5 separate regions of the Homo sapiens genome follow, and all the other regions are reported to be linked to region 5. Evidence: microRNA targets listed by miRTarBase, many of them from high-throughput screens and not tested one by one. Region 5 holds a microRNA gene; each other region holds the end of a gene's coding sequence.

Region 1 (4,121 bases), not on the chromosome of region 5:
AGCCACGGAATGGTCCCTCAAGGCAAGCCTTTGTAGGGTTACAGGGAGTCAGAAAAAGAGTAAACAACCATATCCAAGCCAGTTTCTTGTGAGGCCTGGACTACCTGGGGAGGCTCAGGTGACTTTGGTACAGAGCCACAAGAGCCATGCAGCCGCCGAAAACCAGAGGTGACAGCTCCTCCAACTTAGACCCTTCTCATGCCTGAGTGTTCTAGATTCATGGTGTTCCATCTGGTAGCCAGCAACTCCAAGTTGACATTCTGTCAGAATCTAGAACAAATGAGAACTAAAATTCTAACTTAATTTCTTATCTACATAAGACAGTCTCTGTAGTTGCCTCTCATGTGCCCAGTAAGTGCCCAAGTAATTTGTCAGTTTGGGAAATGAAGCGAAGTCTTCAACAGCCATTCACACTCTCCAGGTGGGTAATACACAAGTGTGCTGCACACGTGCATTTTGAACAGTTTTCTGACTACCGTTGTTCTCTGGCTTTGCCTTCAGAAAACCCGCTATGAAATGTATGTCAGCATTCTCAAGGAAGGAGGCAAAGAGCTACTGAGTAACGATGAAAGCGAGGCTGCAGGACTGAAGAAGTCGCACTCGAGTCCTTCGCTGAACCCGGATACTTCTCCAATCACTGCCAAAGTCAAGCGTAACGTGTCAGAGAGGAAGGATCACCGACCTGAAACACCAAGCATTAAGCAAAAAGTTACTTAGAGTCCATCTGCGGCCAGGAAGTGCTGGTCATGGAGCAAAATAGGGTTTTTCAAGATCTTTCTGGTAATCCGTGAATATATTTAAAAAAAAAAAGTCTGTGACAAAACGGTGCATTAGTAATTTTTTCTATTGTATATTTTTGTTAGTTTCTGTACAGATTGTCTTTGCTCTTGATTTCTTTTGCTTTGATGATTTTTGCAACTTGATAGCTAATGCACCTTTTCTGTGAGGAGGAGGGGATCGTGATTTCAGAATGAATTATGTATCCCTTCTCTTTTGGTTTTCTCTTGTTTGCAGTCTGCTCAGTTGTTTTATGTATTCTCATATCAACTGTTAAACTTTTTTTTAAGGTTAAAGAATTTAATCCATTGTGAAACACTTAACTGGACAAACTGTAGTTTTAGTAAATTCTAGCTGGAGTTAATATACGCCTTTATATGTGAAATCTTGCCCAGTCACAGAGGTAGAATTGAGCACTCACAGATGCTCCAGTAAGAATCACAGTGCTGGGAATCTAGTTGCTCCAATATGAGGCAGCTTCATGTGCAGCTTAGCACTTGTTGTTGAGATCGGACCCTGCTGGAAGCAGGGAAAAGAAGCGTGAAGATCGTAGGATTGAGAACTTAGGGAAGCACATTAGCTTGCTTGAAGTGCTGATTCCATTTCAGCCAAGCAAGGGAAAGAGGAAGTGGAGTCATTTTGCCTTTGAAGGCTGAGGAAAGATTGATACCCAGTTAATTTTGTTTGCTAAAGGATGGGGGCAATAATCGGCCCTTGAGGAGCTGCAGCAGTAGGCATGTGCTCAGTCTGCAGGAATTGTTACCTCACTCCCACAGGGTCTAGACTAGAAATCCATCATCTCTATCGTTGATATCCTTCCATCCAGGAATAGATTTTTCTTACTCTACATATGTGTGTGTGCGTGCGTGTGTGTGCGTGTGTGGGCATGGGGTTGTGTCCTGGTTGTGATATTGAGGTCTTCCTTCCTAACAAATTAATACTAAAATGAAACAGCTTTTCTTGTGTCCTTAAGACAAAATAAGGAAGGAAAACGTAGCTGCAGTTGTCCACGATGGATATTGGTTCTTTAAAATATATCTGAAAGTAGTAGTCAGAATGAATTATGGTTGGAAAACTGAGGAATCTTCTGGTTGCAGGTGCAAAGTGACTTTGTTTATTCTTGTCTCAGTCTCCTTGATAGCCACTTCACTCTGCTACTACTCAACTTTCTCCTAAAAATACTTCATCTATTTTCAGTCCTTTCTTTCTGTCTACTCAAAATGGTTCTATTAACTTTGCAGTCATGAGCTTGTTCCAGTTACAGTCCCTTTGAAGTTCAGGGTGATAAACAGAATATTCTTCTGTAGAGGAAGAGAAAGGAGTGAAAGTTTAGCCCACTGAGACCTAGAGCTTTGTGATTTCCTAACCTTGAAACTCTGTAATCCCTAAAGTTAAAATCTCCGCAAGTGGCACAACTTCAGAACTAATAGTATCACTTTGATTTTTCTTTTTCCTCCCTTAGAAAGTTTCTCTAGTTCTATAGTTTATTTGTTGAAGGTACTATGACCAAAGAATCAGCTGCTCTACAGGAATAGCATGGTTCCAGTGAATTAGAGAAAACCTGCTGTAAAGCCATGGTAGTGTCTAAGTGGTATGTTATTATGATGTACTAGCATTTATTTACAGAATTATTTATTAACGTTTACTTCCTTCCCCTCTGTAAATGTCCATGACTATTGCCCAGAGAAGGCTTACCCCTCTCTAGGGTTGCAGTTGCTTTCTTTGTAATAAGTATTTTGCCACACCTGTAAAAAAAAAAACCTCACTTTTAACTCTCTGCCTTGTTTGGGTAAAGGCAGTAACTAAGTTTATGTTTCAGAACTGCAAAACAAACAGGATAGTTACCAATATGGCCCATGTATCAGATTGATTTTTGTAGCCTCTCACTGAATCCAACATATCCACAAGCAAGTTATCTGTCTTTCTACCTGATAATCTAAATTATCAGGATATTTGTTTTCTGCCTAAATGTTTATACTAAGCCGAGGGGAGAGAGGTACCTAGACCATGTCATCTACAAGCTTCAGTAACTAAAGAAAAAGGAACTTCCCTGAGTGGCTTGAATGTGTTTGCCCACAGTCTATATCTATGTATATAGAATGTCTGTATGTATTTTACTTATTTAATATACATTGAATGGTACCTTGCTACAGTATTTCTGACATTTAGAGTAGTGTTGAAATACTCGGCTAGCATCAGCACCACTATAGCACTGTCCGTGTCATATGAGTCACTAATATTAACTCCAGGGACTTCTGGATAGGCTAATAGATCATTGGATACGAAGGGCTCTTTTGAAGCTTCAGTATACCATGTTTGCATAGTTTATCTTTAAAAACAACTTTAAAGGTTCTTTTGTGAGCCAGGATCTCAGACTGCCGTAGCATGATGCTGTCCATCTTTAGCGCATGGGCTGAGAACACCTCTTCCCTGAGGCTTCTGAAGGTTGCTGTCTGTCATGAGTGCATGAAGGAGGCCAAGAGTTTATGCTATGGGAGGAAACAGTCACTGATTTGCCTAGATTCTGAGAGTCTGGCCCATAGCCAACCACATTTTCCTTTGGGATAATTTATTTCCTGTGGCATCTAGCCAGAAGAAATTGAGGATGTTTCCTTTCACAGCTGCTCCAAGCCTGTTGCCCAATTCACGGTACAAGGGAGCACCCCTTCCCTTTCCTCTGAAGGTACGCCACCCACCTCCGTCGCCCACCTCAGCGCCCAGGAGCCTTGGGACTTCCTTCCATATGATAAATCATTCTTCTTCACGTCAATACACTTCATATTAATTTCTAGTACAGAAAATCTTGACAGCTATCAGAATGCCTTGGTCATAGTGTTGTTGCAAAATTGACCATACAGGTGGCCCATGTATAAAATCTGAATTTTAGGGGTTTGTCCCCACCTCGCATGCTGGCTTTTACAGGGAGGTGTCTGGGATTCCTCATTAGCAATCAAAACTTAATTACTGGGATGCAGAGTCCTTACTTTATCGCCAGCCCGTAGGCATTTCTGAAGTGCACTTTTTTGAAACATCATTTTGCTAACTCTCAGCAGTGTCTAATTAAACTGAGCAATACTTTTGTGAATTTTAATTAATCTCAGCAAAACCATGATGGGAGAGAGTCCTCTGATGGAAATGTAGTCCCTGGATTATGTGTAACCTTTTTATTCCTCTTAGATGCAGAGGATAGAAAGCATTTTTTGGTGCAGTGGTCTTGTGGCAAACACAAGACCCTCTATGCGTCTCCAACTGTTATCCTAATCTAGAAAATGAGGACTGGCCCCTGGGCAAAAGTGACATGAGGAATTTACTCTGGAAGAGGAAAATCTGGGTGGCTTTCCAAG
Region 2 (4,121 bases), not on the chromosome of region 5:
TGGGCGGTGGCTCAGGCCTGTAATCCCAGCACTTTGGGAGGCCAAGGCGGGCGGATCACGAGGTCAGGAGATTGAGACCATCCTGGCTAACACGGTGAAACCCCGTCTCTACTAAAAATACAAATTAGCCGGGCGTGGTGGTGGTCGCCTGTAGTCCCAGCTACTCGGGAGGCTGAGGCAGGAGAATGGCGTGAACGCGGGAGGCGGAGCTTGCAGTGAGCCAGATCGAGCCACTGCACTCCAGCCTGGGCGACAGAGCAGGACTCCATCTCAAAAAAAAAAGAAAAAAAGAAGCGAAACTCCTACCTCAGCCTCCTGAGTAGCTTAGGACCACAGATGCACACAACACCAGGCCCGGATAATTTTGTTTGGAGTTATTCTTTAGAGGTTATGGGGCCCAGCCTTCTTACTGCCCAGATTGGTAGCTCTCTTAAAGAATGGATCGAGTTGGCAGATGGGAGCCAGAATAATCGGGATGCCTGCTACGAAGACTGAAACTTCCATTCAGGAAAGAAGTGGTTATGTAAGTGGAGACTGGAGTTTTGGAGAGGGATGACAACCCACTCTGTGCATCCAGCAGGTAGTGAGAGGTCTGAAGTGATAGATTTGGAGGTTTTCAGCATTTACATGGCAGCTGCAGCCATTGGCTAAAGTTCTTTTGGTTGTTGTTTTTTTTTTTTGAGACGTAGTCTCACTTTGTCGCCCCGGCTGGAGTGCAGTGGCTCGATCTCGGCTGACTGCAAGCTCCGCCTCCTGGGTTCCCGCCATTCTCCTGCCTCAGCCTCCCAAGTAGCTGGGACTACAGGCGCCGGCCACTACGCCTGGCTAATTTTTTGTATTTTTTACTAGAGATGGGGTTTCACCGTATTGGCCAGGATGGTCTTGATCTCCTGACCTCGTGATCCGCCCACCTCGGCCTCCCAAAGTGCTGGGATTACAGGCGTGAGGCACCGCGCCTGGCCTTTTTTTTTTTTTTGGAGACGTTGTCTTGCTCTGTCGCCCAGACTGGAGTGCAGGGCGTGATCTCGGCTCACGCAACCTTTGCCTCCTGGGTTCAAGCGATTCTCCTGCCTCAGCTTCCCGAGTAGCCAGGACTACAGGCACATGCCACCATGCCCAGATAATTTTGTATTTTTTTTAGTAGAGACAGGGTTTCACCATATTGGTCAGGCTAGTCTTGAACTCCTAACCTCGTGATCCACCTGCCTCAGCCTCCCAAAGTACTGGTATTACAGCCACCACGCCCGGTGCCATTGGCCAGAGTTCTATAGACTTGATGGGAGTACATGATCTCTATGATCTAGCATCAAATCCAGGGGTATGTTTTGCAGATACTTTAGTGACTGAGTAAAATCTGAATTGTAAACTTGGTTCTATTGTCACTCTTTGATTGTTCTTTGAGTAACAGATTAGAAGATACTAGGAATTTTCCTAGGCAAGGGGGTCAGGAAGGGAAAGCAAAGTATTTTGGGGATGAAATGAGGTCTGTGAGACAGGCCTGGCAGTCCCACAGAGGATTCTACTCCTCACCCCGCCCTCAGCATTCTGGGTGTTGTTTTATTCTTTACGAAACTGCAATGTAGCCAACTTTTTTTTTTTTTTAGAGGGTGTTTGTCACCCAAGCTGGAGCGTAGTAGTGCGATCATGGCTCATTGTAGTCTCAATCTCAGCCTCCCAAGTAGCTGGGACTACAGGTGCACACCACCACACCACTCTTATTTTTTGAAAAGATGGGGGCCAGACACAGCGGCTCATGCCTGTAATCCCAGAACTTTGGGAGGCCAAGGCAGGCAGATCACCTGAGATCAGGAGTTTGAGACCAGCCTGGCCAACATAGTGAAAACCTGTCTCTACTAAAAATACAAAAAAAAAAAAAAAAAAAAAAAAATTAGCTGGGCATGGCTGTGCACGCCTGTGATCCCAGTTACTCAGGAAGCTGAGGCAGGAAAGTCGCTTGAACCCAGGAGGCAGAGGTTGTGGTGAGGCAAGATTGCGCCACTGCACTCCAGCCTGGACAACAGAGCAAGACTCCATTTCAAAAAATAAAAAATAAAAAAAGATGGGGTCTCACTATGTTGCCCAGGCTGGTCTCAAACTCCTGGTCTCAAGCGATCCTCCTGCCTCAGCTTTCCGAAGCATGGAATTACAGGTGTGAACCACCACACCCAGCTGCTGATGTATTTTTAAAATAATTCACCATATTACACTAAACGTATCCAAGTGACATATTTGAGGTAAGCAAGACTGCTGACATAACAACAGCCCATGCTACCAGCTACTTGAGACCAACGATCTACCATCAGACCACAGCCAGTTCCCACTGCAGTGAAATAACATGAAAGTCTTTATCAGTTGAGCAGTTTCTAATGTGAGAGTCAACACACCTGAAAAATGAATTTGAATGGTGGAAATTCAGTAAGTACTTTATTTATGAGTAAGGCTGTACAGGATTCAGCAGTGTCTAATTCGGGTCCCATATAGAAGTTAAAATTTTTAAATGAGTAATTCAGCTTACAGGGAAATATATTTTCATCTCAATCTTTTATGCTATATCATACCTCAGGCTTTTTAAAAATTATTTTTGAGATGAAATTTTAAAGTTCCCCCGGTACCCAAGTTACCATATTATATAGTATAAAGATAGTGAAATACAAAAATGTAACAAATACTAATACACTGTGATTAATAGCTGTTTATTAGCTTTTTAATAAAGCAAAACTTTATAGTGAAATAAACTAGAAATAGCTTTTTATTTTTTATATATATTTATTTATTTTTGAGATGGGGTCTTGCTCTGTTGCCCAGGGTGGAGTGCAGTGGCACAATCTTGGGTCACTGCAGCCTCTGCCTCCGCCTCCTGGGTTCAAGCAATTCTCCCACCTCAGCCTCCCATGTAGCTGGGATTACAGGCATGTGCCGCCACGCCCGGCTAATTTTTGCATTTTTAGTAGAGATGGGGTTTCACCGTGTTGGCCAGGCTGGTCTCGAACTCCTGACCTCAGGTGATCCACCCACCTTGGCCTCCCAAAGTGCTGGGATTATAGGCATGAGCCACCGTGCCTGGCGAAATAGCTTTTTAGAAGCTTTTTAAATGATATGCTTATAAAATGACAGACATGAGTGAAACATCCTCAATGACGATAATACACAAGTCACAAGTTTCCTGTGAGTGAAACTGAGCAGTACAGAGTCAGGCTGACTGTTTAAAAGCCAGATTCACTTCTTGGTATCACCGAGCTCTTACTCTGAAATTGTGCCAGGGGAGCTTCTGAGCATCACTGGTCTCAAGTTTAATAATGCAAAAATTCCATTTTATCATCTAAAGTTTTGGAGAAGAATCCCTTTGGCACTAATGATATTTACTCCAGCACCATCTCTCCTTTTTGGTGCCTCTTCATTCTTGAGTAGGGACTTATTGTATCATCCATCACAAAATCATACAGTACTTTTATCCAGGAATTGTAGTGAGGGAGGTTGTCATAGTATTCAGCTGCTATTTTCCTCACCTAGAAGGGAAAAAATACAGCAAGATGAAAAATGAGTGTTACTAGGTTCTTTCAAAGATGACTGATGAATGGTTGACACAAACACTGAGAAGGGAAACCATGAGACCTGCCTCCCTCCTCTCTCTTAAAAAAAAAAAAAAGCAGCAGCAGCAGCAGCTGTGGGAATTCTAAACAAAAAGCAGTCTACATTTCAGCAGCAGTTGAATACACTCGACCCTCTAGGTCTCTCTCCCATCACATTCCAAGGGACTAAATATCTGGCTTATTTGTAAAATTAACAACAAATACATACAATTAGATTAACTTGATATTATTAAAGAATGTACTGCATGGATGACGCCATAGAATATAAAGGCAACATCTGATCCCTGCCATCCAGGAACTTACAAATACTAATAAATTGTGGCATGCTAATTAGATAGAAATTAAGCACTTGGCTGGGTGCGGTGGCTCATACCTGTAATCCCAGGACTTTGGGAAGCCGAGGCGGGTGGATCACCTGAGGTCAGGAGTTCGAGACCAGCCTAACCAATATGGTGAAACCCCATCTCTACTAAAAATACAAAAAAATTAGCCAGACATGGTGGCGTGCGCCTGTAGTCCCAGCAACTCAGG
Region 3 (4,121 bases), not on the chromosome of region 5:
GGCCCAGGAATTCCCAGACTGAAAAGTTAGCATAAACCATGGTCTAAGACCAGCAATACCCTGGGGATACCTGAGAGGGGCAAATATTAATACATTATCTCTGGACCTTGGCTGATAGAATGCTCACAAGTAAAGCCCATCAGGAGCCCGGAGTTCCAAATTATAAAGCTTGAGGAAACAAAAGTGATACGTACTTCTCTCAGAAAACTTGGAAAACACTGAAAAGCAGAAGGAAGGAGAAAACCTCACATTCCCTTAGCCCTACCCCAAGACAGTATCTTCTTCTCCATGTTGTTTTACACAGCTGAAATCATGTAGCATATACAGAGGCACGTCATAAATTCACAGATGGAAAATAATATGAACAGAGAGATTTGACAGTATATGATACCTACCACTGAGTGGTTTAATTGTTTTTCCAATTAAAAAATAAATCTCATCTCTCAGATCATTGAATCTGAGTTTCTAAGATGAACAAAATCATCACTCAGATTCTTCGGGGAGGCATTTGGCCATTCTACCGTGTCATGCATCTCTGCTTTTGCAGAGGAGGAAGGAGAGACTTTTGTTTAGTAATTTCTCCATATTGGGGTCCTGCTGTGAAAAAGTTTAGCTGTTCTTAGCAAGCACTGGACCAGAACAGCCTCAGCGATTATTTAAGTGATTGTCAGACATGCATCTGATTGAGGTGAGAAGGATATTGCCAGAGAAATATCTTAACTTCTTGTAACTTCTTCAAGCTCCTTAGAGCTGGGTCTTTCTTTCCCCAGGACTCTTCTCAGGGGAGCTCCCGGAGTGCACTCAGGAGCTGATGATTGACGTCACCAAGAGCTACTACCAGAAGTTTTTGCCCCTGACGCAAGTCTAGCATCTCTGCCTCATGTCTTGAATCTGCTTGAGCTCTAAGATGAACCTGGGGACAAAGTGAGCCAGTCAGCACCTACAAAGAGCTTTTGTGTCTTTGACATCTACCACCCTCCTCCTTTTAAAAAATTTCTTTAGAATTTCTCAATCTTCAAGGCTCTAAGTGCTTAAGAATTCACTAACAGACAGACCATCTGGAGGAGCTGTCTTCAAATGCTGTGCTTACACCTTATCTATGAACAGTCACTTTGTACCATTATCTGTGGAACACAGAATCATCTGTTCCCAACACTCCAGCCCCTTGGTCCTGTGGATGGCTGGATCCCGCCTGAAACGGACCTGCAGAGCAGCAGCACCCTTCCGGTGTGGAGGCTATGTAGCTGGTGCGCTGCTCACGGCCATTCACTGCCCATGCTGAGCGCCTCTCACACAGGTAATGCCCAGCTTTTCTGCTGCTAACACATTTGGCCAGTTGTTGCAGTTGCTCATCATCTTGGGAAAGGTGTTTGTGACTTTTCAGAGCCCAGATTCCTGTTGTCTATTAAAACTTGAAGGGAGGGGTGAATAGTGTTTCTCTCTTCTTCCCAAAATGACCTTAGCTGTCCTAGGATAGTTAGTAAAAGACTTTTTAGCATTTTGACCTAGGGCCTTTGGCTTTCACTAAAAGTGGGGACCTCAGTATCCCAGATTGTAATTTTGCCAAGTGTTAGATTTGAGTCTCTCATGTGGATGCATTAGTCAGGTGGTTACTCCTTGCTTCAAGGTACTTACCTTATTTCATTGAAGACACCGCATTTGTGAACTCTTGCTTCCTGGCCTAGAACCATTCAGCCTACCCTGTATTTGCCATAAACTCCACAATTCACACCAAAATGTCTGTACTTAGAGCTAATTCGCATATATACAGGAAGGGCTCTTAGAATCAGTTTGTGGGCACAGAGCCTCAGGAGTAAATGAAGTTACTAGGGCTGTTCTTACCATCTCCTTCTGGCCAAATAGCACAACATTTCCTCGTTCTGCTCTGACCTCTTAGCTTAGAAGGAAGATTCAGAAGTGAGGGGCTAAGAAGGTTGTCCTTGCCTAATGCTCTGATCTGTAAGTGAATAGGGCAGAACAGTTCAGCCTTGAGGTTAGAATTTAGCAGGAGCTATCCTGACTTAATATCCAGTTGTGGGGTTTGCAAAACAAAACAGCTGTATGTAATCATTGCCACTAGTTCCATCTAGAACTCCTTTCTAGTTTGTTATTTTTAAAATGTTTATACATAAAACCACCAAAATACATAGCTTCGACAAGATGGAAGTTTATTTCTCTCTCCCATAACAGTGCAGTGATAGTCAGCTGGTCCAGGCCAGGCAAGGGGCTGGTCCATGATGTCATCAGGCACCCAGGTTCCTACTGTCTTGCCATGTGGCCACAGTTAGCAACAAAGGAGGCTGTAAATTTAGTTTCTACTTGGGCAGCCAAAACTCTGAGGAAGGAGATTCTGCTAGTAAAAAGGAGTGGGGGAAGAATGGCCATTGGGAGACAACAAGCAGACTCAACCAGGCCTCTTTGTTGGCTTCCTTTCCTCCTGCTGCACATGAGCCTTCGCCGTGCATTTGGAGCCATGACAGCTGATAGCTCCAGACCTGCATCCTCCTAGCTTGGGGGCTCTGAATGAAAGGTTTCTTCCCTTCCAGTTCGAATTTGGAAACTCCCAAAGTTCTCAATGGTTTGTTGTGAGTTCCATGTCCTCTTGGATCAGTCACTGTGGCCATGCATGTTTGGCCACATGATTAATCCAGTCTGGGTCATGACCTTTTCTTCATCCAAAACAAGGTGATGGGAAGACAAAAACAATAGCTACTACAAACAATAGGAGTTTATAATTATGTGCTGATGTATTCGAAGATGTGTTGACAGTCGTGAGTGTGTATCCTAGGAAAGGCGAGCTGGACTCTGTCTCCATGGTGGCTCTCACCCCAGGGACCTAGGAACAGCCTGTCACCACACAATTACTTTTATAACCCTGGAGATGAAAATCTCCTTGTCCTCAAAATACTTCCAGAAGAACAACCAGATGGGAAGGACCTTGGTTGGGACTCTTTCCAGTTCACTTGGGGCAGAGGGAATTTAATGGCTCACGTAGCTGAAAAGGATGGGCTAGATTGGGCTTCAGGCTGCATCCCAGGACTCCAAACAGGGATCTGTCTCTTTGGCTCTCAGCTCTGCTTTCATTTGAGTTGGCTTTATTCTTGGGCTTCACAGTGTGGCCCCACAGCACCAGTTATTGATAAAAAGAGCTCCCCTTTGCTGACAGAACTGCTGGATTTGGTTCTCATTGGTCCAGACGAGGAAGGTATCCAGCCTCAAGTCATCATTGTGGCCAGGAAGATGGAATACACCAAATGGACAGGCCTGGCATGTACCCACAGAGACTGAGAGTTGGTGCTGGTGGTTGTGGTGGCAGATGATATTACCTGAAGAAGGGACGAATGGGTGCTGGGCAGGACAAAGCATCAGCTGTCCAGTTCAGGCCTCTCCTCTTTCCCTGGTGTCTTCATTTTCCTCCGTCTCCCTGCTGTCCCTTACCCTCTGCCCAATCTCTCATTACTCCTGGTCTTGGGAGTTGCCTTCTGAGGATACTCCACTGGGGGTACCTGAGCCTGGATTAGAGGGCAGGGGGAGGATATTGCCTAGCCAAAGTGGGTGTTCAATAAAGAACCATTTGGAGATGGTCTTCTGTCTGGAACTGCTTCCTTTTTGTTTTATTATTTTTCCCCAGATGAGCTGACTGGGCCATGGAACTGCATCCTTATGGTTCCCATAGCACCTTACCGAGGCGCCCTTATCAATAGAGTTTTAGTTATGTACCTGTGTTCTTGTCTGAACCCCTACTAACTGTGAGCTCCTGAGGAGTCAGGCCTGAGTCTGTGGGTCATCTAGCACATCCTTAATAGAATGATTGCCTGGATGTGACCACCCTCACCCCCAACCCTCACACACCCTGCCAGCATGCCTCAGACCTTACCCCAGCTCAAGATAAGTCTCAGATTGCAGGATACCTGCTGCAGGGAACAAAGGTGAATGATTGTCTTGTGAGCCTCCTGTTGACTGATTCTGTTTTACATGGCTGCACAGAGCCCTTGTGGTTATTTGGGGTTGGGGTGGTGGCTTCTGTATTAGTCACTTCTGCATGAACCATTTCACTCAGGATCTGAGGCCACAGTTCCTTTCTTAGTCACTGATACATCTGGCAGACTTGAAATTAATCA
Region 4 (4,121 bases), not on the chromosome of region 5:
ATTCAGCCCTCATGAGACATCAGAGAGTGCACACAGGAGAGAAACCTTACGAATGTAATGAATGTGGAAAGTTATTCTCCCAGTTGTCATACCTCACTATCCATCATAGAACTCATTCAGGAGTAAAACCCTATGAATGTAGTGAATGTGGGAAAACCTTCTACCAGAACTCAGCCCTTTGTAGACATCGGAGAATACACAAAGGAGAGAAGCCCTATGAATGCTATATATGTGGAAAATTCTTCTCTCAGATGTCATACCTCACTATACATCATAGAATTCATTCAGGAGAGAAGCCCTATGAATGTAGTGAATGTGGGAAAACCTTCTGCCAGAATTCAGCCCTTAATCGACATCAGAGAACACACACAGGAGAGAAAGCCTACGAATGTTATGAATGTGGGAAGTGCTTCTCTCAGATGTCCTATCTCACTATACATCATCGAATTCATTCAGGAGAGAAACCCTTTGAATGTAATGAGTGTGGAAAAGCCTTCTCTCGGATGTCATACCTCACTGTACATTATAGAACTCATTCAGGAGAGAAACCCTATGAGTGTACTGAATGTGGAAAAAAATTCTACCACAAATCAGCATTCAACAGCCATCAGAGAATTCATAGGAGAGGCAATATGAATGTAATAGATGTGGGAAGGCTTCTCTGAAGTCAGACCTCATTTTATATCAGAGAACCCTTTCAGTATAGTGAATCAGAAACTCCTGCCTGAAGTCAAACACCTTGTACATCAGAGAGTTCACACAGGTTAGTGTGGACATCCCCTTGTGTGTTGGACTCATAATCTGAAGACTCACAGAATGGAAACCATGATTATAACAAGACCACATGGTATAACAATACTAGACTATAGACAAGTAAAAATTTATAAATATTAAGAATGTATATACATGTCACCATGGATTGGAACTGTTTTGCATATCAGGGAAATCATAGCCAAGGGGAAATCTATCAGTATAAGGAATGTGGAAGACATAATCCTTTGGAAACTGTTAATACTAAAAGATATGTTTCTGATACAATAGCAAACTTGAAAAAAAAAAAAGAAATAGAAGATTCCTGCTGTGAATAAACATACTTCTTGTGTAAATAGAAACTGTAAAGTCATCAGGATAGCTAGTTAAGTCGGTAACCTTAAACTCATGTAAGCAGTTCCCAAAGAACATAGGACTTATGTTTGGGGAGAGGGTTGTTTTTATTACAGTACATTACAGGAATTGTATGTTCACTTCGAATCATGTTTGAAAAAACGTTGTATCCTTATTTTGTAATTCATATAGTAAGAGTATTCTAAACAGCACTACATTAATATCATTTGATAGGTATAAAGTATACTTTTTCTTGCACTCTTCTCTAGGATTTAATGCATTGATCATTCTTAATGAACAATATCAGCTCTAAAGGACCAATGCTTTTATAATGTTTTCAACTGTATCTGAGTCAGCCAGAGAGATAAATATCCATGTATAAAATAGATAGAAAACTTTGCTTGGTAATTTAAAATTAATAATGCCAGTTTTCCAAGAGTGAGAAAATCATTGCACTCTATACAGTTTTAAGATATACTTAAAATATTCCCATTTGTATCTATTTTTTTTTCTACTGTTTTTTATTTGGACACTTACATAACAGTGCAGAGCACAATGCTGTGTAACATAGGAATTCACTGTGTTTTCATTTGATGTCGTACTGGTTTTAAACCTTGTGCTCTACTCCTTCCTGTTAATGAATTAAGAACACATTCTAACAAGGGTCTGTGGCAGACATTGCCGAGTGACTTTCTAACATAGGAATTCACTGTGTTTTCATTTGATGTCGTACTGGTTTTAAACCTTGTGCTCTACTCCTTCCTGTTAATGAATTAAGAACACATTCTAACAAGGGTCTGTGGCAGACATTGCCGAGTGACTTTCTTAGTCACTCCCTTACTCTGCTGGCGGAGTTTGGTTATCCATTTATCCTCAAAAGGAAGTGAGATAAATCCTGATTAGTTTTAACCAGTGACACTCCCCTTCTCGTTGCCAGCAGTTGATTTACAGTGGTCACAGGGCCCAATTCTAGACATAAAACAAAGGATATACCTGACAGACTACTTCTGGAAAAGGTTTTCTCAAAGGCCCAAGGATTCAAGCAAAGGGAAGTGGAATCTTGTGGTGAACAGTACCTTGTCTGGATGTGGTGCCTGGTAACCATCTTTCAGCAATGGATTATAGTTTAATCATGGCCTGAGCAGAAATACTGAAAGACCCTGAGACCTGGATGATGTCTTTGAGCCACCAAACCAAGCAGCCTTGTAGCCACTCCTCCTTTGGACTGTTTCTTTTGTGAGAGACTAAACTTATTTTTAAGCCAGTTGATTTAGGATGCTCTATTACTAATAACTGAAGACATTCTAATTGGTACAGACTGAAACCTTTATAGGAGTTATGCAGTTCAGAAGTGGACTTTAGGTAAGTCATTTATTTTAAGCTGTTGATATAGAGATTTATTTTCTGTAAATTTTGACGTAAATAGTTTGAGCATTAGAAATCAACTTGAAACAATAAAATGTATGCTTCCTTGAACTGTCATATCGTTGACCTGCAAAATTCACCTTTGGAACGTGACACAATGTTAGGCATACCTCCTTTTTTCTAATACATGGAATACATTTTGTTGGAGGTAATTTATGTGATTCATATACCACTGCTACAGTGTTAGCTGACAACATATAGTATGAGGTAAGGATCTAATTCTGTTTCCTCTCACATGATTACTTGATAGCTAAGCATCTGATTGGTTTACTGCTTTACCACTGAGCTGAAATGCCGTGTTTTCCATTTATTAAAATCACACATGGCTCCTGTTTTTGTCACTCAGCACTTTTTCTCCATATTCTTCAAGACGATTGTGAGTATGGTACGTAACAGGAATTACATCTGGTAAGTTGTATAGTTTTGTGTAGGAACTCTATATTCATAGCATATTTGTGGAAATGATACCTATGGAGGTTTCTCACACTGGTGTGTCATTATACATTAATTGTACAATATGCATTTTCAGTAAAATATTTGAAAACTGTAAATGGCTTGGCATTTTCTTCTTATCCTATGGATTGCCTGCACATCAAAGGGTCTGGTACGTATATAAGTGGTCCTGAACTGCCTCTTCAGTAATGTAGTCAGTGTTCATAGTAACATGTTTATAGTTTAAAAGATGCCAATGTTTTCATAAATTAAGAGATTTTTTTGGCCCATCTTAAAATGAAGCCCACCAGGAAATACATTCTTAAAATTATATTGCTTTTTTCTTCCTATCACAGAGATAACTACATCAAAAATAAATTGATTTTCCCTTCATTGAATATAAAGTCTATGATTCCTGCCAAATTGATGCACTAGCATGGGCTGCTGGCTTGTTACAGTGCAAGCCCGGAGGTGCCACGGAAATAAGAGCAGTGTTTGGGTCCAGAGAACTAAGGATGTGAATGGGGCTCTTTTGCGGGAAAGGTAATGGCAGACAGAACAAATCTTAAAGAGTAGTTGAATTGTAATCTTTTTCCCTATACATTTATGGTCCTCTGTAGTATGCCCAGGAGATGATAGCCCACCATGGTGCCTTCATAAGATAGGAGAGCAGCTCGGTCCTATGGGAGCACTTAGGTTCCATTAGAGCATCCTCTCCTCACTTCAAAAGCCAGTCATTGCTACGACTGGAGACATTCATTTTTTTGTTTGTTCGTTTTGTTTTTTGTTTGTTTTTGAGACGGACAGAGCCTTGCTCTGTCACCAGACTGGAGTGCAGTGGCACGATCTCGGCTCACTGCAAACTCTGCCTTCCGGGTTCAAGCGATTCTCCTGCCTCAGCCTCCCAAGTAGCTGGGACTACAGGTGCCAGCCACCACTCCCAGCTAATTTTTTGTATTTTTAGTAGAGATGGGGTTTCACCATGTTGGCCCGGATGGCCTCGATCTCCTGACCTTGTGATCTGCCTGCCTCGGCCTCCCAAAGTGCTGGGATCACAGGCATGAGCGACCACACCCAGTCGACTGGAGACATCTTAAGGAGGCAGTATTTAGGGTGATCATGTCAAGTGGTATCCTGAGGGTCAGTCAAGCGGGGCGGGG
Region 5 (4,121 bases):
AGAGGTATGAGCCACCACACCCAACTGGTACTTGTGTATTCCTGTTCAAATTTTATTGAGGAGCTTTTACCACCTAGCCTGTGGTCTATCCTGGAGGATGTTTGTGTGTGCGACAATGTATATAGTTCAACATCTTAGATCACATTTTGGATGTTTCCAATGGGACTGTGTGTCTCCGCACTGGAACTCAAATGAACACTTGGCTCAGAATCCATTTGCTGTTCTCTGGAAATCCAGTCCAATTCTCTTGGTTAAGTATAAGGTATGTCTAGTAGGCATTGCTTTTTCTGTTTGAGAACAAAACTCGGGAGGATTGTCCCTTGATGAACAAGGCTAACCTGCTGAGCCTTTGAAGCAAGGAACTGGAGATGGTCCTTTTCAGGCGTTTTATTCTGGATTCCAGAAAACATGCAAACAGGGCCACTAAATGCATCTTTATTTTTCTGTCCATTTAAACCTGGTCAAAGAAAATTCCAACACGAAACCCAGAGTGCTGGAGCAAGAAGATCTCAAGCTATGAGTCTACAAAGGAAAGCGCTTTCTGTTGTCAGAAAGAAGAGAAAGCGCTTCCCTTTTGAGGGTTACGGTTTGAGAAAAGCAGTGTTGAAGTTGATGCTGATCTTGGTAATACATTTGCAGAGCATGCTTATCATCAGACTTGGATGATAGCGGGGTTATGTTTTGGTTTTGTGTTTTTCTAAGACAGGGTCTCCGTTGCCCAGGCTGGAGTGCGGTGGCACTTCCAACCTAGCTCTCTTGGGCTCAAGTGATCCTCTTTTTATTTATTTATGTATTCATTTTTGAGATGGAGCCTGGCTCTGTCACCCAGGCTGGAGTAGAGTGGGATGATCTCCACTCATTGCATCCTCTGCCTCCCAGGTTCCAGAAATTCTCCCACCTCCGTGTCACTAGTAGCTGGGATTACAAATGCTCACCACTATGACCTGCCAGTTTTTGTACTTTTGGCACAGACGGGGTTTCACCATGTTTGCGGGGCTGGTCTCAACTCCTGACCTCAAGTGATCTGCCTCCTTGGCCTCCCACAGTGCTGGGGATTATAGATATAAGCCACCGTGCCCGGCCCATTCCTGTCTTTTTAATTTAATCTGCTCGTCCCTGACATCGAAAATTTTTCTTGCTTAACAGCTTCCACTTATTTCTCGGAATAGACCTTTTTCTGCAGGAAGGGTGTAGTTGATTCAACCCTCACCCACTCATGCCAACCGTAGTGAGTGCTGTGACTGCAGCTGCACTGTTTATCCTGTTTTCTGCAGGTAATTTTTCCAGTGTACCATTCCAACCTGCAAAACCTCACATTTAAATGCAAATTTCTTGGTAAGCTGTGAAATGTTGGCTGTGGCTAATATGAGAAACAAGCTATTATAGACAAGATGAATCTCAGTTGCAGTGATAAATGTCACATGGGACAAAACCACAGATACTTTCACAAAAACCTTGAGGACCCTAGAAGGGCCTCCCTAGTAACAGGTGGGATGCGCATCCGCTCTTGTTGCCATAGTGAGTGATGCCTGTTCGTCCAGCCCTCAACACCTTTCACTCCGTGGAAGTTATGCCTGCACTGGTTTACAGAACCTCCCTTGACTTGACTTGAGGTAGAGTTGAAGGGAACCTCAGTGTCCCTTGCAGATGGGATGTGCATTGCTTCGCAAGAGCACAGAGGTGGAGTGCATGGGCTTTGAGTTTTTATTGGGTAAATGAAGCTGAAATACAGGGTGTATGACCACGTTATCAACGCACACTTGATTTAGGTTTTGTATTTTAGAGACGGGGGTGTGAGCTGCCAAAGCAAGGACTTATGTGTAGGAATTATTCTTTCTGTGAGCATACAGTATATGGAACTTTCTTTCTTTTGAGACAGGGTCTCAAAAATATATGATGTATGGCCAGGTGCGGTGGATCACGCCTGTAATCCCAGCAGTTTGGGAGGCCGAGGCGGGTGGATAACCTGAGATCAGGAGGGCGAGACCAGACTGGCCAACATGGTGAAACCATGTCTCTGCTAAAAATACAAAAAATTAGCCAGGGCTGGTGGCGCACGCCTGTAGTCTCAGCTACTCCGGAGGGTGAGGCAGGAGACTATCACTTTGAGTGTGTGTCTTTGTGTGTGTGTGTGTGTGTGTGTGTGTGTGTGTATGTGTTTCTAGTTTTTACAAGACACAGCCTGACTATATCACCGAGGCTGGAGTGCAGTGGTGCAATGTTGGCTCACTGCAACCTCCACCTGCCACCGCAGCCTCCTGAATTAGTGTCTACAGGTATGCACCACCACACCTGGCTCACTTTTGTATTTTTTGTACAGATGAAGCTTCACCATGTTGCCCAGGCTTGTCTGGAACTCTTGAGCTCAAGTGATCCTCTCACTTCGGCGTCCTGAAGTGCTGGGGTTAGAGATGTGAGCCACCGCACCCAACAGGTACTTGTGTATTTTTTTATTGAGGAGCTTTTACAGCGTAGCCTGTGGTCTCTCCTGGAGGATGTTTGTGTGTGCGACAATGTACATTCTTCAACATCTTAGATTCCATTTTGGATGCCCCCATGGGTACTACATGTGCCTATACTGGAACTCAAGTGAACACTTGGCTCAAAATCCATTGCTGTTCTCTAGAAATTCAGTTCGATTCTCTTGGTTAAAGATAAGGTATGAGTAGTAGGCATTGCTTTTTCTCTTTGGGGGCAAAACTCAGGAGGATTGCCCCTTGATGAACAAGGCTAACCTGCTGAGCCTTTGAAAGAAGGAACTGGAGATGGTCCTTTTAGGGGGTTTATATTCTGGATTCCAGAAAACATGCAAACAGGGCCAGGAAAAATGCATCTTTATTTTTGTGTCCATTTAAACCTGGTCAAGGAAAATTCCAACAATAAACCCAGAGTGCTGGAGCAAGAAGATCTCAGGCTGTGACCCTCCAGAGGGAAGTACTTTCTGTTGTCTGAGAGAAAAGAAAGTGCTTCCCTTTGGACTGTTTCGGTTTGAGTAAAGCAGCGTTGAAGTTGATGCTGATCTTGGTAATACATTTGCAGAGCACGCTCATCATCAGACTCGGATGATGTTGGGGTTCTGATTTTGTTTTTCTCCAAGACAGGGTCTCTGTTGCCCAGGCTGGAGTGCAGTGGCAGTTCCAACCTAGCTCTCCTGGGCCCAAGAGACCCTCTATTTATTTATTTATTTATTTATTTATTTATTTATTTATTTATTCATTCATTCATTTAGAGATGGAATCTGGCTCTGTGACCCAGGCTGGAGTGCAGTAGGACAATCTCCACTCACTGCAACCTCCATCTCCCAGGTTCCAGCAGTTCTGCCACCTCAGCCTCCCATGTAGCTGGGATTACAGGCGCCCACCACCATGTCATGCTAATTTTTGTATTTTTAGCAGAGATGGGGTTACACCATGTTTGCTGGGCTGTTCTCAACTCCTGACTTCAAGTGATTTGCCTCCCTGGCTTCCCAAAGTGCTGGTATTACAGGCGTGAGCCACTGTGTCCGGCCTCAAGTGGTCTTCCTGAGTCAGCCTCCCAAGTAGTTGGGATTACATGGGGCGTGACACAACACTTGGTTCAGCTTTTAATTTTTGGTAGAGATGGGGTCTCTGTTGCTCAGGACGGTCTCAACTCCTGAGCTCAAGCGATCCTACAGGTGTGAGCCACCTTGTCCTGATGACCCATTTCAAAGATAGTTGACTTGGCCAGGCATCATGGGGCACACAGTCCCAGTTACTGCAGGGGCCGGGGCGGGAGGGTGCTTTGATTTTAAGGCTATACCGTGCACAGATCCCACCTTTGAATAGCCACTGCACTCCAGCCTGGGCCAACATAGCAAGATCCCATTTCTTTAAAAACAGATTACATAGCACCTGGTCCCACAGATTTCATTTGGGTTGGTCATGTCATACAATGGCCTCCCATCAATTTAGTATAATCAATCCAAACCATGGTTCCTTCATTAAGAGAGTGGGTAATCCTCCAAGTCCATCCAGTCTATTCTGTAATCCCCAGTGGGTGTCCGTATTGATACAATTTCTTTTTGTTCCTGTTCACTCGTGTCTTTTTAGTGTAATCTGCTTGTCCGTAACACTGAAATTTGTTTTTCCCCAACATCTTGC

What was found. Region 5 holds the annotated microRNA hsa-miR-520a-3p (AAAGUGCUUCCCUUUGGACUGU, at 2,961-2,982, shown strand). A microRNA usually pairs through its seed, bases 2 to 8, with sites in the 3' UTR of a target mRNA and lowers its output. Matches are read on the target gene's strand: a 7mer-m8 pairs with bases 2 to 8, a 7mer-A1 pairs with bases 2 to 7 and ends in A, and an 8mer does both.
Region 1: the mRNA of PSD3 is a reported target of hsa-miR-520a-3p. Seed matches in the 3' UTR shown: 7mer-m8 at 1,270-1,276.
Region 2: the mRNA of DEGS1 is a reported target of hsa-miR-520a-3p. Seed matches in the 3' UTR shown: 7mer-m8 at 3,028-3,034.
Region 3: miRTarBase lists DCTN5 as a target of hsa-miR-520a-3p. The part of its 3' UTR that is shown has no 7-base or 8-base seed match.
Region 4: miRTarBase lists ZNF12 as a target of hsa-miR-520a-3p. Seed matches in the 3' UTR shown: 7mer-m8 at 2,874-2,880.

The regions. Positions count from the first base shown.
Region 1 is chr8:18,532,339-18,536,459 of GRCh38, reverse strand. It overlaps PSD3 (pleckstrin and Sec7 domain containing 3), which reads left to right. Exons shown (of 16, transcript NM_015310.4): 16 at 502-4,121. The coding sequence ends at 717. Among named protein-coding and RNA genes, the nearest start is that of NAT2, 140 kb to the right of the region's middle.
Region 2 is chr1:224,191,717-224,195,837 of GRCh38, reverse strand. It overlaps DEGS1 (delta 4-desaturase, sphingolipid 1), which reads right to left. Exons shown (of 3, transcript NM_003676.4): 3 at 2,397-3,506. The coding sequence ends at 3,360. Among named protein-coding and RNA genes, the nearest start is that of DEGS1, 11 kb to the right of the region's middle. RefSeq lists a silencer at 3,210-3,279.
Region 3 is chr16:23,666,277-23,670,397 of GRCh38, forward strand. It overlaps DCTN5 (dynactin subunit 5), which reads left to right. Exons shown (of 6, transcript NM_032486.4): 6 at 771-4,121. The coding sequence ends at 868. Among named protein-coding and RNA genes, the nearest start is that of PLK1, 11 kb to the right of the region's middle.
Region 4 is chr7:6,687,392-6,691,512 of GRCh38, reverse strand. It overlaps ZNF12 (zinc finger protein 12), which reads left to right. Exons shown (of 5, transcript NM_016265.4): 5 at 1-3,080. The coding sequence ends at 665. Among named protein-coding and RNA genes, the nearest start is that of ZNF12, 17 kb to the left of the region's middle.
Region 5 is chr19:53,687,973-53,692,093 of GRCh38, forward strand. It overlaps MIR520A (microRNA 520a), which reads left to right and starts at 2,909; the gene lies at 2,909-2,993. It overlaps MIR1283-1 (microRNA 1283-1), which reads left to right and starts at 509; the gene lies at 509-595. The region is part of intron 2 of LOC107985342 (a long non-coding RNA gene); the gene reads left to right.